Homo sapiens: one gene and its partner. The protein of the gene in region 2 purifies or fractionates together with the protein of the main gene of each other region. This does not show direct contact. Each region holds a gene or a part of one and is shown on either strand. Other genes may lie near its edges.

What was found. Proteins that work in one complex are often made in the same cells at the same time.
Region 1: the proteins of MAP7 (region 2) and RC3H1 purify together in Homo sapiens (affinity purification with western blotting; 2 studies listed by BioGRID, with this or other methods). This does not show direct contact.

What each region holds. Positions count from the first base shown.
Region 1 is NC_000001.11:173,980,664-173,984,416, reverse strand, and holds part of RC3H1 (roquin-1), read left to right. Parts: intron 1-759; coding exon 760-999; intron 1,000-1,514; coding exon 1,515-1,690; intron 1,691-3,407; coding exon 3,408-3,608; intron 3,609-3,753. UniProt on the Homo sapiens protein: Post-transcriptional repressor of mRNAs containing a conserved stem loop motif, called constitutive decay element (CDE), which is often located in the 3'-UTR, as in HMGXB3, ICOS, IER3, NFKBID, NFKBIZ, PPP1R10, TNF, TNFRSF4 and in many more mRNAs.
Region 2 is NC_000006.12:136,548,775-136,552,527, forward strand, and holds the start of MAP7 (ensconsin), read right to left. Parts: upstream 1,649-3,753; 5' UTR 1,635-1,648; coding exon 1,568-1,634; intron 1-1,567. UniProt on the Homo sapiens protein: Microtubule-stabilizing protein that may play an important role during reorganization of microtubules during polarization and differentiation of epithelial cells. Associates with microtubules in a dynamic manner.

The DNA.
Region 1 (3,753 bases), on a different chromosome or scaffold from region 2:
AATTCCCAAAAAACCTAACTAGAGGTAAATTTGATGCAATTATCCATACTAAGTAAATGTCTACTAAAGAGACTTGTTACCATAAAAATTGTGAGCTATTAAGCAAATGTTAATGAAATTTATCTATTGTAAACTAAACTCATTTTGTGCTAAATATCATGACACAAACCACATCAAATAAAATAGTGAATTTTTAGTTTATGTGATGATGGAAACATTATTCGAATGATGATAATAGCAAATATAACTACTTACTTCAGCAGTGCTTTCCATCATTTGACAATTCTGAATGGTTTGCCTTCTATCCAGTTTTATATGCTATGCTATAGGCGGTATAATGAATACGGAAGTTGCCATTACTGCACAGAAAGGGCTTGCTATTTAATTAGGAAAATAAGGTTAACCACTGTCAAATAATATACCAGAACTCTTAGGACTTCAAGATTTACATTATAAACTAATTATCAATGTTGTCTAGTCCTTTTTTCTTTCTTCCTCTATGATTAAAATGAGTAATGGTATATTTAATGTCATAATGAATGCTAAGTGCACATGAGATAACTCATGTATACATTTGTATACTTTAAAAATGTATACTTAAGTAAGCTTTACATGTGTGGTTTTATTTGTTGCTTATTTTAAATACTCTAGTAGTCCCAGAACTAGTCACATACCCACAAGTTAACCCAACAGAAGAATTGCTCCTGGACTGTAAAATTGCATTGTGAACCTAGGAATAACTTCTTTACTCTTTTAAAGGAGTGGGTCTGAACAGCACTACTCAGAGTGTTCTGAGTCGCCCAATGCAGAGGAAGCTTGTGACTCTAGTCCACTGTCAACTAGTAGAAGAAGAAGGCAGGATTCGTGCCATGAGGGCAGCTCGATCTTTAGGTGAACGAACAGTTACAGAGCTCATTCTCCAGCACCAGAATCCTCAGCAACTCTCTTCCAATCTTTGGGCAGCAGTAAGGGCTAGGGGATGCCAGTTCCTTGGACCAGGTACATAATTAACTTTAGGTATTTATTCTGCTGGTAATTCTAAAAGTATGATGTAGGAATTATAAGTGATGTACAAAGCCTAGTTCTTTGCAGTATTTTATTGTTACCAACTAATATCTTGTTTGATGTTCATGGCTTGGGCAATTCCATGTAACTTAGTGGACTTACTAGGTGAACTTAGTGAACTTAAAACTTTTCTCTTAATGCCAAAAGTTGTTTCTTTTTTTAATTTTTTGATTTTTCCTTTTTTTCACACCTGTAGCAGGAAGTTCATTCATTTTGATAGAAGTTTTTCTTAAATTTATTAATCACTTTATCTGTTTTCTTTATAAAATATATAGAATGTAATACAAAATTGCTCACAAAAATGGTGTAAAAGTGTGTTGCTGGTTAATCTTAACTGTATTGCCAGTTAATTGAATAGCTGCAGAAATGATTAAATATTCCCCTTCTAATAAATGGATTTATCTTATCTATGTACTTGATAAATTTTGGTTTTGCCCAACTTTCCCTAGCAATGCAGGAGGAAGCTTTAAAGTTGGTTCTGCTGGCCTTAGAAGATGGTTCTGCTTTGTCAAGAAAAGTATTGGTTCTGTTTGTGGTGCAAAGATTGGAGCCACGGTTTCCTCAAGCCTCTAAAACTAGCATTGGGCATGTTGTTCAGCTCCTTTATAGAGCCTCCTGTTTCAAGGTATGAACCTACATTAAAGCTCAGCTTGAAAGGAAATATTGTTCTTTCCCCAAAGTTAAGTAGTAAAACTTTGAGTTTAATAAAGTTGCCTGTATCTTTTCAGAAAATCTCAGCAATTTTTCTTTATTCTTTTAAAGAATGTAGATGGGGTCTTATTATAGTTAAATACTATTATATTGAATTTTTGTATGTTCAATATTGAACAACATAGATCAAGTCAAGGTTTATAGATTTTTGTATTTGAAGAGACTAAGAAACTATATCAATTTCTTACCAAGACTGTGCAGAATTGGTCTGAAGAGAGAGTTATTGAAGCACAAATAAATTTTATTTATTTATTTTTATTTTTTTGAGACAAAGTCTTGCTGTCGCCCAGGCTGGAGTGCAGTGCATGATCTCGGCTCACTGCAACCTCCACCTCCTGCGTTCAAGCGATTCTCCTGTCTCAGCCTCCCGAGTAGCTGGGATTATAGGCAGGGCCACTGCACCTGGCTACTTTTTGTATTTTTGGTAGAGACGGGGTTTCGCCATGTTGGCCAGGCTGGTCTCGAACTCCTGACCTCAGGTGATCTGCCCGCCTCAGCCTCCCAAAGTGCTGGGATTACAAGCGTGAGCCACCGCGCCCAGCCAAATAAATTTTATTCAGAGATTTTCTCCTAGTGTAATTCCACATATACAATAATGAAGTTCCATTTGCCATTTCAGTTTATATGGTAATGCTGGACATAGTCTCTTATCCCAAATTGAATAAGCACCGCCTCAAACATTGCTACTCACTATGTATCATTTATTGTACATCCAGTATTATTTTTCTGACTTTTTTTTTTGAGATGCAGTCTTGCTCTGTCGCCCAGGCTGGAGTGCAGTGGTGTAGTCTTGGCTCACTGCATCCTCTGCCTTCTGGGTCAAGCAATTCTCCTGCCTCCAGCCTTCTAATCATAATCATTATGATTATTCTAGTCTAGCATCTCACACTTTACACTTTCTGGTAGTAGCCCATCCCACAAAACTCCATGAAGAATTAAGCCAAGTACAAATTAAATCATTTTTAGAATTACACCAGCATCTGAAGCTCTACAGTCATCAGTCCCACCTAGCTCATTGTCAGGCAATCCCAAGAGTCATAATCCACATTTATGGAGAAGAAACATATTGTTTTTCAGAATATAGAATTGTATTAGTATTTTTTTCTTTTCAAAAATACATATACACACACATACACCTTAAACTGAATGTATATGTTAAAGTATGTCAAATCTTTGGATTTCATTCCAGCACATACAGATTGACTATACAAAAATCCAAAATCCAAAACTTTTTGAACACCAACATGATGCTCACATGCTCATTGGGGCATTTCAGATTTTCAGAGTAAGGATGCTCAAGTGGTTTAATGCAGATATTCTAAAATTTGAAAAAATCTGAAATCTGATAACACTTCTGGCCCAAGCATTTTGGGTAAGAGATTCTCAGCCTGTATTTATTCTTTCTGAAAGACCTATCCAGAAAATGTTGGCCTAAATCCAACTTGACTCAGAATGGGATGATAGCAATATACCTACCTCAACAAGTTAAGGAGAAAATATTTTGCAGGCAAATGGTATATTCATTTAATCTTGCTGTTGATGCTAAATTTGTTACATTAAAAATTATATGTTCATATAAAGCATAAACTCATTTTTTTGACTTCATTATGAGATTATTTGTGTCTTATTAGGTCACCAAACGTGATGAAGACTCTTCTTTGATGCAGCTGAAAGAAGAATTTAGAACCTATGAAGCTCTGCGGCGAGAACATGACTCCCAGATAGTGCAGATTGCTATGGAAGCAGGCTTACGAATTGCACCGGACCAGTGGTCCTCTTTGCTTTATGGAGACCAGTCTCACAAATCTCATATGCAGTCCATTATTGACAAGGTAGGACCTTTTTTGTTCCTTACTTCTTAGACTAATCTTGGCATTTTGGTAATTCATTTAACAAATGTATATTAAAGTGAATACTGTATAGCTTTTGTAAATTGTATTTATAGCCAGTGTCATGTCATAACCAATCACGTTATAA
Region 2 (3,753 bases):
TAGCTCGCTAGAACAATGTTGTTTCACATGCAGTTACTGGGTCAGGGTTAGGAACGAAAATCATGCCGTATATTTACAAATGAGGATGCTCCTCTCCCGGGGCCCTCACTTGGGGGAGCCCCGTCCCAGCGTCTAGCTCATCAAATTCCCGAAAGCAATTACAAAGGCATCTCTTCTCCACCCCAAAACAAAATAATGATCTACCAATCTTGCGAACACATTAAGACAAACTCCCTACAGGAAGGAGCATGACTTAAACAAGTTCAAGATACTTTGTCAGTCTTAACCTCAGGTATCTTGGCTGAAGGGATTAAATCATTAGACTTTACGTACCCAACCTCTTCCTAGCAATAGCAGATACATAATTTGCAAATACTGTTTCAGAGCTCTCTGGACCTTTCACGTTAAAATAAGCATACTTGATGGTGGGGAGACAGTGATTCTTACATTTAGGAAACAAATGCTTCCGATTGTGACCGTATGGAAGTGGAAAACAGCTTGCAATTGGAGAGTCTAAGAATTGAATTTCTTTTTAAAGTAAGAAACTGCCTCACTGCCCCCATCCCCAAGTGTAGGAAGATATAGAAACAGCTTACTGGCCAAGAATAGAAGAGGGAACCAGTGGAGAGGGACGGATTTGCAAGATAGCCTCTGGAGAAAAAAAAATCACGAGGGAGAAAAATCGGCTTCATACTATGGAGAGATGGGCGGGGTTGGGAAGCCTTGCTGCTGGTCTTGGGAAGCCTTGCTGCTGGTCTTGGGGACGTGATCCCCTGTCCCTAAGTGTGCCCCTGGAGGTTGTGGGGGAGGGGTATCCTCAACACAGAGGCCTGACCACCAAATCCCGGGCTGCAGAGCCAACAATCCTCCTTTGGGCTCCTGCACAGACTAAAAACAAAAAACTCTGAGAACTCCGACAAGTCAACGAAAGTCTGATCCCGTCAAGCCCGCACTCGCAAACCCCCACCGTGCTGCACTGGGCCCCGGCCCTCCCGAGCTCGGTCCCCTCGGACGACGGTCGTCGCCACTGCGGGCACCAGATTGGGGGGCGGGCCGCTCACCCCGCGGTCCTGCCCCACACCGACCCCGCTGAGGAGCCCCCGGCACCCGGGGCGACCAGGGAAGGCGGGAGGAGGTGCCCAGAAACTGCTCGTCCTGCCAGTCGCACCTGGCCGACGACTCTCTGGCCACTGGTTTGGTCTGGGGGATACGATTTCCCATTCAACTGAATTAGACCCGAGGCCGCGGCGGGGAGGGCAGCGGCCGGGGTCTCTCCGTTTCCTCCCCCGGCTCGCCTCCACCTGTTGCGGGAAAGTCGCGGTGGAGCGCCCGAGGGCGGCCGCAACCCCGGCCGGGGCCGAGCCGGGCTGGCCGAGCCGCGGCGGCGAAGGGCGGGGGAAGGCGCTCTCGGAGCAGGGTGCGCGGCGCGCAGGGCCGGTTGTTCCGGGCCGCGGCCGCGCGGGCGGGGAGGGGGCTGCCGGCGCCGGGTGATTTCGGTGCCAGCCCGCCGGCCCCGCTCGCCGTCCCCTGCCCGACGGGACCCCCACTATCCCCGCTGTGCGGTCACCTGTTTCGCTTCGCACTGCGCCGTCGCCGCCCCTGTGGCCGTCGCCGCCAGCTCCTAGCTCCGCCATGGTGCTCCGATGACGCGCCCGGAGAGCCGCTCCGCCCTTTCCTCGGCTTGGCTCCCGCCGGCCCCCGCCTCCCAGGCCAGCGGCCCAGACAGGTGAGCGCAGTCCGGGGATGGCGGAGGGCGGGGACAGAGAGCGCGGCAGTCGGCTGCGGCCTGGGCCTGGCGCGCCCCCTCGCGGGCAGGTGCGGCGTGGCAGCCGCTCCGACCGCCGCTGCCGAGTCTCGGCTGGAAGAGCGGCGGGCGGAACCAGTACCTCAGTCCGGAGCTTCCGGTCGCCGCGGCCGACCAGCTGAGGGCTCCCGGAGATATGGAGCGGGGTCAGCGAGGCCTGGTGGCGCCTCCTGGAGTCTGGGACGAGCGGCGGTCCGAGGAGCAGCCCAGGTGGGGCGAGGGTACGGAGACGCTATTTCCCTCCGAACTCTGAAGTAGCCAGGTCAGTGTCGGCTCCGCGAGGGCTGGAGTTCACGGTGACAGCCGGCAGAGCATCTGATGCCACGTGGAGAGGCGAAGTACATGGGTCGGATTCCACGCTGGGAGCCGGCCTGGATCTGCGCTTTAGGAAGCCACTGCGGGCGACCCTATCTTGTCGCCAGGACTTCGCATCTGATGAGCCTCAGGGCACACAAGTTAGAGAGGCTTGTGCCGGCTGATGTGGCTTTTCTTTTTCTTAGTTTCCGTTTAGTAAACGACCTTGTGACTTCTGGCTTGCTCAGGAAGACCAGAAAAAAAGGCAATAGGTAACGAATTTTTCTTTTTTTAAAGAAACAGATTATTGGCCGAGGAAAAACCAATTTCGCTCTAAAGGATAAGCAACAAAATACTGAGGGGGGAAAAAGCCTACACAAATGGAAACATACGGCACAAAATCAAGGAGCGACCAGTTCCGCATGGTTACACTAAAATGCACTGCACTCCCACTCTCTGGCTTGGCTGAAGATAACCAGCAAGCTCTGAACAGTTTAAAAGCCTTCCAAGGACTGCAGCAGCACTGGACACACAAGAGAGTCGAGAACAGTATTGGATTTATTGTTAGGGTTACAATTTTCACGATCTTTGCATGCAAAACTTGCCACTCTGAGCCCAGTGAACTATTTTTATTTGGTTTACTTACTGGCTTTCTGGATGACTAGGTAGAGCTTTAACTAAAGAACACTTCTGCTGTGGTCTGTGATGATGAATTTTCCCGTAGTGTCATTTCTATAATGGAATAGGCAAACTGACCATTTAGAATGTGATATTCCTAAATCACATTCAAATCAGTCTTATCAGAGACTTCTAATCAATAAAAATAAAGCACCAGATGGCTAGAGGTAGTTTTTGACCTCAGCTTGGGCCTCAGCAAAGATTTTTTGTGTTTTTTTTAACTACATTAAAACATCAGAGTTTAAGACACTTTTCTTTGAGCATCAGAAATACTCTCAGCTGAATTTAGAGTTGAACTATCCGGAAGAACCCTGGAGAAGGAGGGTGATTTATTTTCAACTTTCTGATTTACCACCGACTTAAATCAACCAATGAGTTCTTTCTTTGACCAAAAAAAAAAAAAAAAAAAAAAAAAAAAAAAAAAAAATTCAAGACTTGTGATGTTTCTATTTGTTTTGTTTTGTTTAGTTTGGTGTGTGCTTACTCATTGTCCCATTCTTTTGATAACCTGTATTTATCTGCCACAAGTTAAACAAAAATAAATGAAATAAGGAACACACCAAAATCCTGCACTTAGGCCCTGTATAGACAGTGTGTTCCAAACCTAAGGAGGTGTCTGCAACAGGGGAGGCTGCTGAGTGACTCTGCAGAGAACAGATGACATCTGTTAAATGTCAAACACCATCACGTCGTACTTCAAGTTGTACTTTACTTGGAACATGGAAGCCATCTGTCTGGAGCTCCCACATCCATTTCAAATCTTCAGGGTTCCCCATTCCAGGGGAGGAGCTGAACCTCCTGACACCGTCCACTTCCCTCCTGCCTCCTTCAAACATCATCCCTTTTTTCTCCCGAATCCCTAAATGTTTCTGCACCCAAGGGCTCTACCCCAATAAACACAGCTAAGACTCTTTGATTCTTAAAATGTCTTCCTTTAACGTCCCACCCTCCAGAATCTATTGTCGTATGTTTTGTTC